Regions from separate parts of the Homo sapiens genome. Here regions 1 and 3 are each linked to region 2. The links come from fine-mapping of genetic effects on gene expression. A gene starts in region 2. Each other region holds a variant in brackets. All regions are shown on one strand. Distances are between the middles of the regions. Region 1 overlaps TATDN2 (TatD DNase domain containing 2). Region 2 holds the start of IRAK2 (interleukin 1 receptor associated kinase 2). Region 3 overlaps IRAK2 (interleukin 1 receptor associated kinase 2).

Region 1 (6,234 bases), 110 kb after region 2:
GGCCTTAAAAATCTGTTTTTAAAATGCTACCCAGTTGATGGAGATGTGATGCTAAGTTGAGGCACCATTTATTCTAAAAATTAATTCAGCAGATATTCATGAGCACTCAGTATCTGCCAGGCACTGTTCTAGGTGTTGGGGAGACATCAGTGGAAAAAAAATAAAAATTCCTGATCTCGTGGCGCTTACCTTCTCTAGTAGGACTAAGCCGATTTAATGCAAGGGATGGTTGTTTCAGTCACTATTACTAGTTAGTAGCTTAAAATAACTTTTCTTTTGCTCTCAGTACTGTGGGTCAGGAATTTGGAAAGGCCTAGACTGGGGCAGGTGTTTCTTGGGGAGCCCCATGTAGTTCCTTTCAGATTTTGGCGAGGGCTGTCGTCATCTGAGAGTGTGACTGGGCTGGACATCCGAGATGTTCACTTACATGGTGGACAGATGTTGGCTGTCAGCCAGTAAGTCAGCCAGGCTGTAAACTGGCACACCTACATGTGGCCTCTCTAGCAGGATGTCATTTGGGTTGCCGGACTTCTTACATGGTGCTTGGCTTGCTCCAGAGTGAGCAAGTGGAGTGAACCAGATGGAAGCTACAAGGCCCTTCTGACCTGGCCTTGGAAGTTACACAGCTTCGCTTCTGTTGCATTCTTTTGGCTATAAGTAAGTCTCTAGGTAGGTCCAGATTAAGGGGAGGGGTCATAGACCCCACTCTCAATGGGGAGAAGGGTTAAATAATTCGGGGACACGTTTAAAAACTGTCACAATGGCCAGGTGTGGTGGCTTATGCCTGTAATTTCAGCATTTTGGGAGGCCAAGGCAGGAGGATTGCTTGAGTCCAGGAGTTTGAGACCAGCCTGGGCAATATAGGGAGACCCCCTACCTACAAGAAATTAGCCAGATGTGGTGGTGCGTGCCTGTAGTCCCAGCTACTTGGATGGCTGAGGCAAGAGGATTACTTGAGCCCAGTAGTTCAAGGTTTCAGTGAGTCGAGATCTCACCACCGCATTCCAGCCTGGGCAACAGAGCAAGACCCTGTCTGAAAAAAAAATACAACTGCCACAGCTGTTGTAATTTTACATTTTGAATATATTGACGACAGTGTCAGAGAGGAAAAGCTGGGCACTGCTTTTCTCTAAAATCTCCAATCCGGAGTGTGTTCTAGAGAGCAGTTTTTCTCAAGAGAAAGGGATGCAGGTAGAGCACCACCTTTAGGAGTAGCATGATGAGGCCATGGTCACAGGCCTATTCCCTGAACCCAATACAGCTGTTCACAGCAGTAACTTGGCTCAGTTCTGGACATTTCTGGAAATTGTAAGGAAACCAGGTGACAGGGTGAGCTAATGAGCCAATGCAAAGCCATCACCATGGCCAGAAGAACAAGCCAGGGTTTATGTTCAGCTGATGACAGCCTGGGAGGCCATCTTCACATCGGAAGGCTAACCCACTGTTGTATGCCTTCTTTTCTGCAGCATAAAGATAGGGAGGTGGTGATGGAGCACCCCTCTTCTGGAAGTGACTGGTCTGATGTTGAGGAGATCTCCACAGTCAGATTCTCTCAGGAGGAACCTGTCTCCCTGAAACCTTCAGCCGTTCCGGAGCCTTCTTCCTTCACCACCGACTATGTCATGTACCCTCCTCATTTGTACAGTAGTCCTTGGTGTGACTACGCCAGCTATTGGACCAGCAGCCCCAAGCCTTCTAGCTACCCCTCCACAGGCAGCAGCAGCAACGATGCAGCCCAGGTTGGGAAGAGCAGCCGGAGCCGCATGAGTGATTATTCCCCCAACTCTACAGGGAGTGTCCAAAACACCTCCAGAGACATGGAGGCCTCAGAGGAAGGCTGGTCCCAGAATTCTCGTTCATTTCGCTTCTCCAGAAGCTCAGAAGAAAGAGAGGTGAAGGAGAAAAGAACATTCCAAGAGGAGATGCCTCCGCGTCCTTGTGGAGGACACGCATCCAGCTCCCTGCCAAAGAGCCACCTGGAGCCAAGCCTAGAGGAGGGCTTCATTGACACTCATTGTCACCTGGACATGCTCTATTCCAAGCTATCTTTCCAAGGGACCTTTACAAAGTTCAGAAAAATTTACAGCAGCTCCTTCCCTAAGGAATTTCAGGGCTGCATCTCTGACTTCTGTGATCCCCGCACCCTGACAGATTGCCTATGGGAGGAGCTGTTGAAAGAGGATCTGGTCTGGGGGGCCTTTGGCTGTCACCCTCATTTTGCACGTTACTACAGTGAGAGTCAAGAAAGAAATCTTTTGCAAGCCTTAAGGCACCCTAAGGCTGTGGCATTTGGAGAAATGGGCTTGGATTACTCTTACAAGTGCACCACGCCTGTCCCAGAACAGCACAAGGTAACAAGGCTCTCTTTAGTCTGCTTATAGTTTTAATTTTTCTTTTAGTTGTTGAAGCCTGACAATAAGGGTTTATCTAATTTTAGAAGTAAATAATTGAGAATCCCTGAAAACGCAGTGTGCTTGCTCTCATCCAGACCATCTAGATGCCATTTGTCAAATGCTTTACAAGCTATTTCTTACTGTTCAGCTTTATTATGGAAGATGAGGGAGAAGTACTTTGTGACTTCTTATGGATGATATCAATGTCAAAACATTTGTTTTCTTTCTTTCTTGGGAAGCAATAAACTTTAGGTTTTCTTAATTGATTTTTTGAGAGGGAGTCTTGCTCTTTTGCCCAGGCTTTGGAGTGCAGTGGTGCGATCTCAGCTCGCTGCAACCTCCGCCTCCTGGGTTCAAACTGTTTTCCTGCCTCAGCCTCCCAAGTAGCTGGGATTACAGGCGTGCATCACTACACCCGGCTAATTTTTGTATTTTTAATAGAGACCATGTTGGCCAGGTTGGTATTGAACTCCTGACCTCAGGTGATCCACCCGCCTTGGCCTCCGAAAGTGCTGTGATTACAGGCATGAGCCACTGCGCCTGGCCTGCATTGTTTTTTTTAAATATACCCATTGCAGAATATTTGAAAAAATATGAAAAAATGCATAATTTCCCATTCAACCAGAGATCATGGCTAATACTCTGTTAATATTTTTTTCTTTTTCTTTTTGGAGACAGAATCTCACTCTGTCACCCAGGCTGGAGGGCAGTGGCA[CG/C]ATCTCGGCTCACTGCGGCCTCCACCTCCGCCTCCGCCTCCGCCTCCTGGGTTCAAGCGATTCTCCTGCCTCAGCCTCCCGAGTAGCTGAGACTGCAGGTGTGTGCCACCTTGCGTGGCTAATTTTTGTATTTTTAGTAGAGGTGGGGTTTCACCATGTTTGTTAGACTAGTCTCGAGCTCCTGACCTCAAGTAATCCACCTGCCTCGGCGTCCGAAAAGTGCTGGGATTACAGACCTGAGCCACTGCGCCCGCCCCCTGTTAATATTTTTTTTCCTCCCAATATTTTTTGAGCATAGTGCTTTGGCAGGGTAAGAGTTGTAGTATTTTAGAATTTCTTTTCTTTTTTTTTCAGAGATAAGGTCTTTGTCGCCCACACTGGAGTTCAGTGGTGCAGCCACAGCTCACTGCAGCCTTGACCTCCTGGGCTCAAGTGATCCTCCCACCTCAGCCTCCCAAGTAGCTGGGACTGCAGGTGCACACCACCACGCCTGGCTAATTAAAAATAAAAATTTTTTTGAGATGGAGTCTTGCTGTGTCACCCAGGCTGGAGGGCAGCGGTACGATCTCAGCTCACTGCTACCTCCACCTCCCCAGTTCAAGTGATTCTCCTGGCTCAGCCTCCTGAGTAGCTGGGATTACAGGTGCCTGCCACCACACCCGGCTAATTTTTTTTTTTTTTTAAGGCAGAGTTTCACTCTTGTTGGCCAGGCTGGAGTGCAATCGCATGATATTGGCTCACTGCAGCCTCCAGTTCCCAGGTTCAAGCGATTCTCTTGCCTCAGCCTCCTGAGTAGCTGGGATTATAGACTCCCGCCACCACGCCCAGCTAATTTTTTGTATTTACAGGATCACACCTGTAATCCCAGTATTTTGGGAGGCCGAGGCAGGCGGATCACCTGAGGCCAGGAGTTGGAGACCAGCCTGGCCAACGTGGCGAAACCCCGTCTCTATTAAAAATACAAAAATTAGCTGGGTATAGCTGGGTGTGGTGACTCATGCCTGTAATCCCAGCACTTTGGGAGGCCAAGGCGAGCGGATCACCTGAGGCCAGGAGTTGGAGACCAGCCTGGCCAACATGGTGAAACCCTATCTCTACCAAAAAAAAAAAAAAAAATTAGCTGGGTGTGATGGTACATGCCTGGGGTCCCAGCTACTCAGGAGGCTGAGGCAGGAGGATTGCTTGAGCCTGGGAGGTTGAGCTGCAGTGACCCATGATTATGCTCCAGCCTGGGTGACAGAGTGAGACCCTGTCTCAAGACAAAATTATCAGGGTCTCAGGTCTGCACTTAAAGGTCCATGGGGCGACCTGCACAACAAACTGAACTAGAAGCGATAGGCATAGGGGGATAAACACAGTCTTGAAGATGTCATTTGGCTTGGTGAGATTTGACTCAAGACTGGAAGATAATGAGTCTGAGGAGTTGCTGGCTGGGAGAGGGCTAAGCTGCCTGTAAAGGGGAGGAAGACTAGAAAATATTTGTCAACACCAGAGACTCCTAGGCTGGGTGGGGGATATGGACACTGTTTTGATGTAAATAAAAAATTTGGCACCCAAATGAGGTGAATGGTGGTGACTGGCAACTGCACCTAGTTGGATGTCAGTGCTGAGTTGCATTTACCTAAAAGAGCAGTTAGCAAGTTCTGGATGTGTCCTGCTGAATGTTTTATCTTGTGAAGGGAAGAAGAAGAACCTATAGAGGGCTGGGCGAGGTGGCTCACGCCTGTAATCCCAACACTTTGGGAGTCTGAGGCAGGAGATTGCTTGAGCCTAGGAGTTCAAGATGAGCCAAGGCAACATAGTGAGACCCCATCTTTATTACATTAAAAAAAAAAAAGAGCCTGTGGAAGGTCTGTATCTGGGCAAGATGATAGGGTGACAGACCCTGCTCATTATAGGAGAGTTTGGTTGATGTACCTAAAATTTTCTGGAAGGATTGGAAAATAGAGAAAAGCAAAACAATTGGGGAAAGAATGGGTAGTTATAGTTATTCTGCTGGTTAGAGCAAATTACTGTTAACGTTTTCTTTGTTGATCTGTGGTGTTTACAGATTAACTATGTAACTCATAAGAGTTAGATCCTGAATAGTTTGTGTGTAAGTTGCACATGTCAGCATCTGGGAGGGATGCCAGGGAGAGTAGACTGTCCTTCCCTACCCAGGCTGTATCTCTTTACTTGTGTTAAAGAGGAATTAATTAATTATTAAAGTAATAAATATGCAAGAGATGCCTGGGGCAACTCCCAGGAGAGACTAACTCTGGAATCCCTGGAAATAATGGATCAGTTAGGAAGCCAACCTTATGCAGGTAGAAGTGAGTAATTATACTGGGTAATAACTCATCTGTACTTCCTTCACTCCTGTTGTTTTTCAGCTGGGTTCCTGGTGAGGACAAATGCTGCAAATAGCTCCTGTCCAACCACAAGTTCCTGCATTCTAATGAGTTCTTCTTCCTTCTTAACATTTTTGAAATCTGGATGTGTTTCATGAAACATTATAAATGTAATGTTATTGTTCCTTGGAAAATTGCAAGGTACAATACAATTGCAAGGAACAGTTGCACAGTGGCTTGTCTTCCATGCACCTGTCGTAGGTTGGATGTGTGTGCTTGTGTTAAAGAAAGAAATTAGGAAATTAAATAGTTTTAAGTGTCTTTTCTACTCGTGAAATTTTCCCATTCATCAGCTATACTTTGAAAAATGTTTAACAGCTGTGTAATATTCTATCCTAAAGCTCTAATAGTTTATTTCACTACTCTGAGGGATAATTTTTTAGAGGCAGGAATGAAATGTTGGAATTGGAATCTCTTGAAACCTCTGCTGCCTGTGTGTAGGGGTCGGGGAGGGCAGATGAACAGCTTAGCAGATGCAAATAGGAGGGGCTCCAGCCACCTATTGATAGTGGAACTGGCCAGGCTTTAGATAAAGCCTCTGTCAAGCAGTCTATAATTTTGATGTCTGTGGTCATTTTCCTTTCTTTGAAAACACAGATTAAACAAAAGTTACATCAGAATTGGTATTGGCTTAGTGTTGCTATTTTGAGAAGAGGCAGTACAGGTGTTAGACTTGTAAATATTCTCAAGTGAATATCACCTGACTCAAATTACAAAAAGTATCTCATTGTTTGA
Region 2 (6,234 bases):
TAGGGGACTCTGCAAAAAGAGAAAAGGAGAAAAAGAAGAGGATCTTTATTCTCTTTTACCCCCGTGTGCCTGGGATGGAGATGCTTCTCCACCCAGCCTATGGCAAACAATCATTACAGTTCCCAAGTCCACCTTCAGCCACTGCTGAAAACACAGGACTTCACTTGAAAAGTAGTCTCAGAACACTGAAATATGTCCCACTTTCAACATCAAGGAGGACATAATAGTAATCCTTTACTGGGCTCAGCACTTCACAGTTGATCTTGAGCGTTTTGGAGTCCATTTAGGCTTCATAACAATCCTTCCAAGTGGCTGCAGCAGGAGATCCAGTTTCCAAAAGGGAAAACAGAACTGGCTCAAAGGACTAAGAGCCGGAGAGTGGCTGAACCAGGTCTCCAAACTTGATAGGACTCCAAGGCCAGTGGGTGCCTTTTCAAGACCACTAATGACAGCTACCATTTTTTGGGCACATTCTCTGTGCGAGGAAAGCCCTGTAGTAGGTGTTCTATATAGGCTACATAATTTGATTTATTCCACTCCCCTCACAACTCTAAGCAGTAGGAAGGAGCAGGCCCACTTTACAGATGCTGGAAACAAGGCTTGACGAATGAAATGAGTTGTCCAGAGTCACAAAGCCTGTTGGTGGCAGAACTGCAACTTGGCCCTAGGACTTCTCACTTTGATTTCAGCTTCCTCCTTTTGCAGCGCTACTCCATAGCTGACGGCCACAGCTATACAGTGGTACCTACTCTAGTTACTTATCTGCCCTTCGTGACCTCGCCTAACCTCTTGGAATCTATTTACTTCTGTGTAAAATGGGGATAATAATATCTATAGTATAGGCTTGTAAGAATGACATAAGATCATTTTTGCAAAGTACATTGTAGATACAGATAAATGTATCTGTATCTACAATATACTTTAGCCAGTGGTGATGGAGAGCCTGGGGTCAGAATACTTAGGTTCAAATGATTTTAGCCATATTATTTAACCTCTCTGTGCCTTAGTTTCCTTATTTGTAGAATGGGGCTATAACCATACCTACCTCAGAGGGTCATTGTAAGGAGTAAGTAAAGTAACCCAGGTGAAGGCTACACATAGTAAGTGCTCAATAAATACTAGCTATTTTATATATGTGTGTGTGTATTTTATATATATATATATATATATATATATATATATATATGTATACACACACTATAAATTCTGTTCCTTGTACCCTCTTTGTTTATTTAGAGACAGGGTCTCACTCTCACCCAGGCTGGAGTGCAGTGGTGCAATCTTGGCTCACTGCAATCTCCACCTCCTGGGCTCAAGTGATCCCCCTACCTTAGCCTCCCAAGTACCTGGGACTACAGGCACATGCCACCATGCCTGGCTAATTTTTGTAGAGACAGGGTCTTGCTCTGTTTCCCAGGCTGGTCTCGAATTCCTGGGCTCAAGCGATCTGCCTGCCTCTGCCTCCCAAAGTGCTGGGGTTATAGGTGGGAGCCGCCGCACCCAGCCCCTTATACCCTATTTAATAATCCAGTTTGTCCTGCAGTCCCCTGCACCATACTCTGCTTTTTTCCCAGTAATAGTATCATCTAAGATAATGCAATTGGCCACTTGCACTCCCTTTTACCACCCTCTACTTTTATTCTTTCTTTTCTTTCTTTTTTTTTTTTTTTTTTTCAGAGACAGGGTCTCATTCTGTCACTCAGGCTGCAGTGCAGTCATAGCTCACTGCAGCCTCAAACTCCTGGGTTCAAGAGATCCTACCACCTTAGCCTCCTGAGTAGCTGGGACTATAGGTGTACACTACCATGCTTGGCTCATTTTAAAATTTTTTGTAGAGGCCAGGCGTGGTGGCTCATGCCTGTAATCCTAGCACTTTGGGAGGCCGAGGCAGGCGGATCACGAGGTCAGGAGTTCAAGACCATCCTGGCCAACACAGTGAAACCCTGTCTCTACTAAAAATACAAAAATTAGCTGGGCGTGGTGGCGCGTGCCTGTAATCCCAGCTACTCGGGAGACTGAGGCAGGAGAATTGCTTGAACCGGGACCTGGGAGGCAGAGGCTGCAGTGAGCCAAGATTGCGCCACTGCACTCCAGCCTGGGCTACAGAGCAAGACTCCGTCTCAAAAAAAAAAAGTTTTTTGTAGAGATAAGATCTTCCTATGTTGCCCAGGCTTCTACTTTCATTCTCCAACATAGCTTATCTGCCTATTTTTATTGCTTGTTGTCTGTCTCCCTCCAGGACAAGGATTTTGTCCTTCTCTTCAGAGGTATTCCCAGCACCTACAACAGTGCCTGGCACATAGTAGCTGCACGATACATATTAGCTACTATAGTAAAGTCTACCTGACTACCCTATTTAATAGAATATTCCCCATGCTCAATCTGAATTCCTGATTCCCTTTAACCAACTTTTTTTCCTTTTTTTTTTTTTTTGCAATAGTGCTTATTACCTTTAAGACACTCTGTAACATACTATATTTATTATTTATTGTTAGTCTTTCTCTCCACACCTAGATTGTAAGTCTTATGAAAGCAAGGGCTTTTGTAGGCTTTTTTTTTTTTTTTTTTTTTTTTTTGAGACAGAGCCTCACTCTTCACCCAGGCTGGAGTACAAGGGCACAATCTGGGCTTACTGCAACCTCCGCCTCCAGGGTTCAAGCGATTCTTCTGCCTCAGCCTCCCAGGTAGCTGGGACTACAGGCGTGCGCCACCGTGCCCGGCTAATTTTTGTATTTTTAGTAGTGACGGGGTTTCACCATATTGGCCAGGCTAGTCTCGAACTCCTGACCTCGTGATCCGTCCGCCTCGGCCTCCCAAAGTACTGGGATTACAGGAGTGATCCACCGCGCCCGGCTGTAGGGTTTCTTATTCAGGTATTACCAACACCTAGGGAGTTGCCTGGCATACAGTAGGTAATTAATGGAGTATTTGATGAGCGCATGATGCATGGTGTAGTGCCGATGGAAGTGGGGTCAGAAGGCCTCCTGCCGCTGCGGCAGAATTCCCGTGTGGCCTTCTCCCACCAGGGCCTCAGTTTCCCCTCGCAGTTCCGATTCTCTGGCCGGCGCTGGGGTGGAGCCGGCGGGGCCGTCGTGCCGCCCGTGGCCGCTGGGGACGCTGGTGCCCTCCCGCCCCGCCCACTTCCCCGCCGGTCCGCCCCTGGCTAGAGAAGCCGCAGCCCGCAGTGTCCGACCCAGTCGTCCCGCGCCGGAGCCGGCCCCGTAGCGTGCCATGGCCTGCTACATCTACCAGCTGCCCTCCTGGGTGCTGGACGACCTGTGCCGCAACATGGACGCGCTCAGCGAGTGGGACTGGATGGAGTTCGGTGAGTGCGGCCCGGGGAGGGGAGGGGACCAGGGCGACCGGAGCCCCCAGCGATCCCGCCTGGAGCGGCCGCCAAGCTCCCTCGGGCACCCGGGTTCAGCGGGTCCCGATCCGAGGGCGTGCGAGCTGAGCCTCCTGGACCGGGTCCGCCGCGGACCTCGGCCTGTCACCTGAAGGTGCCGCGTGGTCTCTGAGGACGTCTGTCGACGAGCAGGGGCCGCCGCCACTGCGCTCTGAGTCCAGAGAACGGTGGGTACGGGGGCCCTCCTGTCAGCGCTGCTGGCTCGGTGACGTCCCCAGGTGGCCTCTCATCCAGCCCACAACAGCCTGCAAAGTGCGAGCCTCGACCCTGTAGGGACCCACGGTGCTGTCACTTCTTGGGGGGGTGTGTGTGTGTGTGTGTGTGGTGTGTTTAGTTTTAGTGTATATTAGAAGGATCTATGATTTAACATATATATATATATTGAAACGGAGTTTCGCTGTTGTTGCCCAGGCTGGAGTGCAATGGCACGGTCTCGGCTCACTGCAACCTCCACCTCTGGGATTCAAGCGATTTTCCTGCCTCGGCCTCCCGAGTAGCTGGGATTACAGGCGCCCGCTACCACCCTGGCTAATTTTTTGTATTTTCAGTAGAGACCGGGTTTCACCATGTTGGCCAGACTGGTCTTGAACTATTTTTTTTTTTTTTTTTTTTTTTTTTTAAGACGGAGTCTCACTCTGTCGCCCAGGCTGGAGTGCAGTGGCGCGATCTAGGCTCGTTGCAAGCTCCGCCTCCCGGGTTCACGCCATTCTCCTGCCTCAGCCTTCTGAGTAGCTGGGACTACAGGCGCCCGCCACCACGCCCGGCTAACTTTGTATTCTTAGTAGAGACGGGGTTTCACCGTGTTAGCCAGGATGGTCTGGATCTCCTGACCTTGTGATCCGCCCACCCTGGGCCTCCCAAAGTGCTGGGATTACAGGCATGAGCCACCGCGCCCGGCCTCCGGAACTCTTGATCTCAGGCGATCCACCTGCTTCGGCCTCCCAAAGTGCTGGGATTACAGGCGTGAGCCACTGTGCCCAGCCTATTTATCATATTTGTGATTAAATGTACTTTACCATTATAGTTTTAAAATCAGATATTTACTTTTAGTGTACATTGTTTTGATCACAGTATTTATGACTATCAACCTGTTTTGAGATCAGATGTGTCCTAATAGATTCAGTGTGTATAATGGGGCCTAAGCACAAGCACTTACTTTCACTCTATTGCAAGGTGCACAGTTCTAGATAATTCCGTGGGAAGGCACTCAGACAGCCTCCATATGTTTTGTTTGTTGGTGCCTGACGGATGACTGGCGGAGAGGGCCATGGACTCTGCGGGGAGGCCGCTTGCCTGTTGTCTCTGCTTTCCAGGTGGAGATCTGCATTCCAGGCTCTTGCTGTATGACTTTGGGCCAGTTTGTTAACCTCTCTGAGCCTCAGCTTCTGAATCTGTATGTAAACTGGAGATGATAATTATAGCTTCTTCATAAAGTTGTGAGGAATGAAAATACTGTATAAAAGCACTGACACCTAAGTGTTAAATATTCTTATAAGTCATAAGTTGTAATATTCTCTTTTCATTTTTATTTTTTTGAGACAGTCTCATTCTGTGGCCCAGGCTGGAATGCAGTGGCGAGATCTCGGCTCACTGCAGCTTCCGCCTCTTGGATTCAAGTGATTCTCTTGCCTCAGCCTCCCGAGTAGCTGGGATTACAGGCATGTGCCACCACGCCCACTAATTTTTATGTTTTTAGTAGAGATGGGGTTTCGCCATGTTGGCCAGGCTGGTCTCGAACTCCTGACCTCATGTGATTTGGCCGCTTTGGCCTCCCAAAGTGCTGGGATTACAGGCGTGAGCCACTGCTCCTGGACCTGGCTTCACTACTTTGAATGTTTCCTGGGCAGTGAACAAACTTTGTGTGAGACTCCCTCTCATTTTTTCCACATTGGCCCAGCCCTCAGTTACAAATGCCAGAACAACTTCTGTTTCTAGGAAATTCAATTAGAAGGCATACCTATGACTTAAAAAAAAAATAAAGCTTTACTGAGATATTCACATACCATACAATCCACCTGTTTCAGGAGTACAATTTAGTGGTATTTAGTATATTCACAGGGCTGTGTATCCATCTTCACAATCAATCTTAGAACATTTTAATCACCCGAAGAAGAAACTCTGTACCCGTTAACTTCCAATCCCCTCCTTCCATTTTCCTGAGTTTTAGACATTGCCTATTTTGGACATTTCATATAAATGGAATCATATAATATATAGTGCTCTGTGACTGACTTGTTTCAACTAACATGAGGTTCATCCATGTTGTAGCATGCGTCAATACTTAGTTTCTTTTTTTTTTTTTTGAGACGGAGTCTCGCTTTGTCACCCAGGCTGGAGTGCAGTGGCGCAATCTCGGCTCACTGCAAGCTCCACCTCCTGGGTTCATGCCATTCTCCTGCTTCAGCCTCCCTAGCAGCTTGGACTACAGGTGCCTGCCACCATGCCCGGCTAATTTTTTTGTATTTTTAGTAGAGATGGGGTTTCACTGTGTTAGCCAGGATGGTCTTGATCTCCTGACCGTGTAATCCACCTACCTCGGCTTCCCAAAGTGCTGGGATTACAGGCGTGAGCCACCGCGCCCAGCCAGTTTCTTTTTATTGTAGGATAATGTTCCATGGTATGGATATACTACATTTCATTCATTTATCAGTTGTTGGGCATTGGGTTCTTTTCACTTTTGGGCCATTGTGAATAGTGCTGCTGTGAACACTCACATACAAGATTTTGTGCAGTGGTGCAAATGTAGCTCACCGCAGCCCCAACTTCCTGGGCTCAAGCGATCTTCCTGTCTCCTGAGTAGCTGGACTACAGGTGTGCACTGCTGCACC
Region 3 (6,227 bases), 55 kb after region 2:
GAGTGGTCAGAGAGGTAGGAGGAAAGTCAGGAGGGAATGGTGACTGAGAACCAGCAGAAGAGGATTTCAGGAAAGAACCCCAGTCCTAGAGTCAGGCAGGTGTGGGATCTGGTCCTGGCTTTACTGCTTTCTAGTTTGTGACCTTGGGCAAGTCCCTTAACCTCTCAGTCTCCGTTTCTGGAGATGGGGCAGTTGAGATGTCATGTGTTGCAGAGCAGTAAAGCAGGATGAGGACCACCATACTCGTTGAAGGCAGACAGTTTTCATCTTTCCACCCTGGGGCCAGGCCCTTAGGGGTCAGAGTATGTGGTACCTGGGAGGTTATTGGTGGCGTTGGAGGAGGAGAGGGCAGAAGAGGGGTGGGACATGAGGAAGTAGATCATTCTTTCCGTCTGACTCCTCACACCTGCACTGACGCCCGATTCCAGATGCTGCCACCCCAATGTCTTACCTGTGCTGGGCTTCTGTGCTGCAAGACAGTTTCACAGCTTCATCTACCCCTACATGGCAAATGGTTCCCTACAGGACAGACTGCAGGGTCAGGTAAGGGACTGGGTCATGGTCAGAGAATGGGACCAGGCTGCACCCAGCCATGGGGTCAAGGGTTAAGGACTTACAGAAGTTCAGAGGGGAGAGGGGCCATCTAGGTGAGACCAGGGAGACTTCAAGGAGAGAAGTGGGGCCAGGATACATAAGATCTGGTTAAGTGCTCACTTTGGCAGCACATATACCAAAATTGGAACGATACAGAGAAGATCAGCATGGCCTCTGAATGAGGATGACAAAATATGAAAAAGAAAAAGAAAAGCTCAAAAAGATCTGATTAAACATCTTCAGGAAAAATCTATAAAAAATTATTTGACGAGAAGCATTTCATTCAAATCAAGAGCAGGACAAAGGTATCTCATAGAACTAACTTCGTTCGTCATGGTTCTGGAGGTGTTAGCCAATGCAGTAGGACAAGAAAAAGAATTAAGAGGTAAAGAGTATGGAAAAGTGGAGGTGAATTTTTATTATAAAATGTTCTTCTAATATATACCTATTTGCTTGTGTGTTTATGGAATGTCTCTGGAAAGATACACAAGAAACTGGTTTACTGGCTGCTGCTAGGGAGCAGAACTAGGTGATTGGGGCCTAGGATAAGAAGCAAACTTACTATTAGAGTATTATATCATGTGAAGGTAATCCTTAATAAAAATTACAGTGTTTTAAAACAGGTCTTCTGCTTATCTTATCCTCAAATAGAGGGGAAAGAGTTATTCCATAACAGAATTATTGCTTCCCATGGCAGGGACAAGACAAAGCAGTTACTCACGGCATACTAATGATCTTTAGCTTTTCTGGGCACTCACTGTATGCAGGTTGCTGTGATAAGGGTTTTACGTAGGTCATCACCTCCAGGCCGTGCCACAACCAAAGCAATTTCTTCCCTCATTTTTCAAAAGAGGAATCTCTGACACATAGAGACAAAGTGACTTGCCCAAAGGAACATAGAGGACAAATGTCAGGCCAGAGCTTACATTGGGTTCGTCTGGCTCTAGGTTTCAGAGTTTTTGAGAAGAAATTAGCAGGGGCTGTCCAGGCCAGTTCTTAGAGGATGTGGGACCTACACCAGGGCTTCAAAAATAGGTGATGAGGCTGGGCACAGTGGCTCACGCCTGTAATCCCAGTACATTGGGAAGCCGAGGTGGGTGGATCACTTGAGGTCAGGAGTTTGACACCAGCCTGACCAATATGGTGAAACCCTGTCTCTACTAAAAATATAAGAATTAGCCAGGCGTGGTGGCGTGTGCCTGTAGTACCAGCTACTGAGGAGGCTGAGACAGGAGAATCACTTGAACCCGGGAGGCAGAGGTTGCGGTGAGCCGAGATTGCACCACTGCACTCCAGCCTGGGCGACAAAGTGAGACTCCGTCTCAAAAAAAAAAAAAAAAAAAAAACCAAAACGGTGATGATTTAGCCTGGGAGAGTCAGTCTTAGAACAACAGTGGGAGCAAATGAGAGGCTTTAGCCCATCCCACAATCCCCATCAGCCCTGGTGAAGTTTCCCCTAATACAGATAAAATCAGCGTAAGGCCCAGGTGCTTGGCTTGCAAACACAAGCTCCCTAGCTCCTCTCCCATCCAGCTTCTTTTAGAGAGAAATTCCAGAGCAGCCTCTGTAATGGACATGATAAAAATAACTGCTGATTGAGCACCTACTGTGTGGCAGGTGCTATGCTAGGGGTATACCATATACTCCCTTGAATCCTTACAGCAACCCTAAAATATAGGGATTAACATTTCCATTTTATACCCAAGGAAACTGAGGCTCAGAGATGTTAAGTGTCTTTTTCCAAAATTATACAGCTAATGCATGTCTGAACTGGGAGTTACACCTAGATCTGTCTGATGTCAAAACCCATAGTACAGGGTCAGGCACATGGCTCATGCCTGTAATTCCAGCACTTTGGGAGAGCGAGGTGGACGGATCGCTTGAGCCCAGGAGTTCGAGACCAGCCTGGCCAACATGGCAAAACCCTGTCTCCACGAAAAATACAAAAATTAGTTGAGAGTGGTGGCACGTGCCTGTGATCCCAGCTATTCGGGAGTCTGAGGCGGGAGAGTCACTTCAGCCTGGGATTTTAAGGCTACAGTGAGCTATGATGCTGCACTCCAGTCTGGGTGACAGAGCAAGACCTGTCTCAAAACCAGCAAACACAAAACAATGAAAAAACTCACAGTATCATGCTGAGCCCTGTGACAGAGGACATGAAGGGTGGGAGGAGGATCAGGAGCCTGGGACCCTGCCATCAGGACTTCGTTTTTTTGTTTTTGTTTTTGTTTTTTTTTGAGATGGAGTCTCGCTCTGTCACCCAGGCTGCAGTGCAGTGGTGCAATCTCGGCTTACTGCAAGCTCTGCCTCCTGGGTTCACGCCATTCTCCTGCCTCAGCCTCCCAAATAGCTGGGACTACAGGCAGCCGCCACCAGGACCGGCTAATTTTTTGTATTTTTAGTAGAGATGGGGTTTCACCGTGTTAGCCAGGATGGTCTCGATCTCCTGAACTAGTGATCTGCCTGCCTGGGCCTCCCAGTGTGCTGGGATTACAGGTGTGAGCCACCGC[A/G]CCTGGCTGCCATCAGGACTTTAAAAAGGTACATTGTGACTATTTGTCCTCCTGCTTTTCTTTCTCTTAGGGTGGCTCGGACCCCCTCCCCTGGCCCCAGCGTGTCAGCATCTGCTCAGGGCTGCTCTGTGCCGTCGAGTACCTGCATGGTCTGGAGATCATCCACAGCAACGTCAAGAGGTGAGAGAGGTGGGCTGGACCCTGCTGGGGCCTGGGCTGCAAGGGTGGAACTGGTGCCTATTCCTGGCTCACCTCCCGCTCCGCCACTCACCCCTGTCCTCTTTGTTTTTCTCTTCCTACCTCCTCTCCTCTGCCCTCCCCTGGATGTCTTTTTCTCTGTTATGCCCTCAAAAATGAGTGTTTCCGGGCTGTGCTCCAAGTCCAATTGCTCTCAGGATGAATTGCCTACCTGTCACATTTGTCTTTCTGAGCTGCTGTTTTCCCAACAAGCCCTCCACACCTTGCTGCGTCGCACTGTCCACTCAGCAGCTGGCCTGGACCTCATCCTCGAACTTTGGGCCATGTCTGCCAACCCCCTGGGATTTTGAGCTCCTCGTTCAGTGTCTTTTCTGAGACCTGTCCCCTTCTTGTGTAGCTGTTGGTGTTAGCATCTTGTCTGGAAGGCTCCTGCAGGTTAGGCCTGCACCCCTGCATGTCAGTGCCATGCACATGAGAGGGAGAGGTCCCCATCTGGAGACGGTTAGGATAGGGAGGGATTCCGAAGATACCAGAATATCTGGCAGAACTGGCTCCAGAGACACAGAACTCGTATTTCCCCAAAGTTCTCTTTCCATTTGACTTGTGGAAGTCCTTTCCTCTTTTCTCTCCCCCAATTTTTTTTTTGTTTTTTGAGACGGAGTTTCACGCTTGTCACCCAGGCTGAAATGCAGTGGTGCGATCTCAGCTCACTGCAACCTCCACCTCCCTGGTTCAAGCGATTCTCCTGCCTTAGCCTCCTGAGTAGCTGGGATTACAGGTGCTCGCCACCACACCCAGCTAATTTTTGTATTTTTAGTAGATAGGCTTTCACCATGTTGGCCAGGCTAGTGTCGAACTCCTGACCTCAGGTGATCCACCCGCCTTGGTCTCCTATAGTGCTGGGATTACAGGTGAGAGCCACCACCCCGGCTCTCTCCCCTAATTTTTATTTGATTGCATCAATAATTCTAATAGCAGGCAAGGAAATGAAAGGGTGAGAGAGGTCACCACTAACCTACCCCATGACTCATCAGCTGGCCTCTAGGTTTTGTTTCTTTTTTCACTTCCTGCCTATACAAATCCTTAGTCCTGAGGTAGCACCTGGGTACCAATTCACATCCTGTTTTTTACCCCTTCATTTAAACATAGTAAACATTTCGCTACATTGTATACCGTCATGTTTTTTAGTGTCTTAGTCTTCCCGTGAAGGAATTTGCCCATAATTTACTTAACCACTCCTGGCACACACACCCGTGCATTTGCGGGCGTGCACACACACACACGCTAAAAAAGTTTTTTTTTTGGCCGGGCGCGGTGGCTCACGCCTGTAATCCCAGCACTTTGGGTGGCCAAGGCGGGCAGATCACGAGGTCAAGAGATCGAGACCATCCTGGCTAACACGGTGAAACCTCGTCTCTACTAAAAATACCAAAAAAAAAAATTTTTTTTTTTTTTTTTTTTTTTGAGATGGAGTCGCGCTCTGTGGCCCAGGCTGGAGTGCAGTGGCACAATCTCTGTTCACTGCAAGCTCCGCCTCCCAGGTTCACGCCATTCTCCTGCCTCAGCCTCCAGAGTAGCTGGGACTACAGGCGCCTGCCACCATGCCCGGCTAACTTTTTGTATTTTTAGTAGAGATAGGGTTTCACTGTGTTAGCCATGATGGTCTCGATCTCCTGACCTCGTGATCCACCCACCTTGGCCTCCCAAAGTGCTGGGATTACAGGTGTGAGCCACCGCGCCTGGCCAAAAAAAATTTTTTTTTGAGACAGGGCCTTGCTCTTTTGCCCAGGCTGGAGTACAGTGGCGCAATCTCAGCTCACCGCAGCTTCCCACCTTAGCCTCCCAAGTAGCTGGGACCACAGGCACGCACCACCATGCCGTGCTGAATTTGTTTGTTTTAGTAGAGATGAGGTCTTGCCATGCTGCCCATGCTGGTCTCAAACTCCTGGGCTCAGGTGATCCTCCTGTCTCGGCCTCACAAAGTGTTGGGATTACAGGCATGAGTCACTGCACCTGGCCTGCACTATATATCTGTACACATGTGGCTTAGCTTTTTCCCATTTTGGAGTATGTTCTCAGTGTTTGCTCCTGGGGGTTAGATGACTAGATCAAATGATTTTTTTTGAGACAGTGTACCACTCTGTTGCCCAGGCTGGAGTGCACCTCTGCTTCCGGGTTCAAGCAATTCTCCTGCCTCAGCCTCCTGAGTAGCTGGGACTACAGGCGCACACCACCACGGCTGGTTAATTTTTGTATTTTTAGTAGAGATGGAGTTTCGGCATGCTGGCCAGGCTGGTCTTGAACTCCTGACCTCAGGTGATCTGCCCATCTCGGCCTCCCAAAGTGCTGGGATTACAGGCGTGAGCCACTGTGCCCGGCCAAGAGGGAATTTTTTTTTCTTTCTTTTTTTACATGATCTGGGCAGGTTTAGTCACAAAGGATGCTGGCCACTTAGACCTGAGTCAGCCAGGCCAGAGCTGGGGGTTGGAACAGTTGTGGAAGAGACTGAGTCTGCACAGCCTGTAGGCGTGGCAAGCTGAGGCTGATCAGGGTTGGCATCTGTGGGGATCAGGGAGGCTGCACTTTGGCCACATTCCTGGGGCAGCAAGACTAAGTCTGAACTCCATCTCCATTTGCTGGAGGGAGTGTGCTCCTGATGCCCTCTCTTCCCCAGTCAGGGCTGGCTCAGAAGCTCCATGCTGAGGGTCTTTAGAGACCTCAACTTGCAGGAGGTGAGGTTGCTATATTGTCTCCCCAAAGGGTCTCCATGGCAACTTGTTGTTATCCAGCTCAAAATGAGAAGGTTCCCTCTCCTTTCATTTCCACAGCTCTAATGTCTTGCTGGACCAAAATCTCACCCCCAAACTTGCTCACCCAATGGCTCATCTGTGTCCTGTCAACAAAAGGTCAAAATACACCATGATG

What was found. PIP is the estimated chance that this variant, and not a neighbour inherited with it, causes the effect.
Region 1: its variant is the best candidate, but not a certain one, in a credible set for the expression of IRAK2 in whole blood (TOPMed, PIP 0.89).
Region 3: its variant is the best candidate, but not a certain one, in a credible set for the expression of IRAK2 in whole blood (TOPMed, PIP 0.87).

What each region holds. Positions count from the first base shown.
Region 1 is chr3:10,268,665-10,274,898 of GRCh38, forward strand. TATDN2 (TatD DNase domain containing 2) reads left to right here. Exons shown (of 8, transcript NM_014760.4): 4 at 1,467-2,351. Among named protein-coding and RNA genes, the nearest start is that of MIR12127, 8.6 kb to the right of the region's middle. The variant CG/C (reference allele first, on the strand shown) is at 3,109.
Region 2 is chr3:10,161,724-10,167,957 of GRCh38, forward strand. It overlaps IRAK2 (interleukin 1 receptor associated kinase 2), which reads left to right and starts at 3,196. Exons shown (of 13, transcript NM_001570.4): 1 at 3,196-3,325. The coding sequence starts at 3,232. RefSeq lists silencers at 3,031-3,160, 3,361-3,510.
Region 3 is chr3:10,216,506-10,222,732 of GRCh38, forward strand. It overlaps IRAK2 (interleukin 1 receptor associated kinase 2), which reads left to right. Exons shown (of 13, transcript NM_001570.4): 7 at 429-543; 8 at 3,175-3,284; 9 at 6,131-6,227. LOC124906338 (U6 spliceosomal RNA) reads left to right here and starts at 707; the gene lies at 707-814. The variant A/G (reference allele first, on the strand shown) is at 3,105.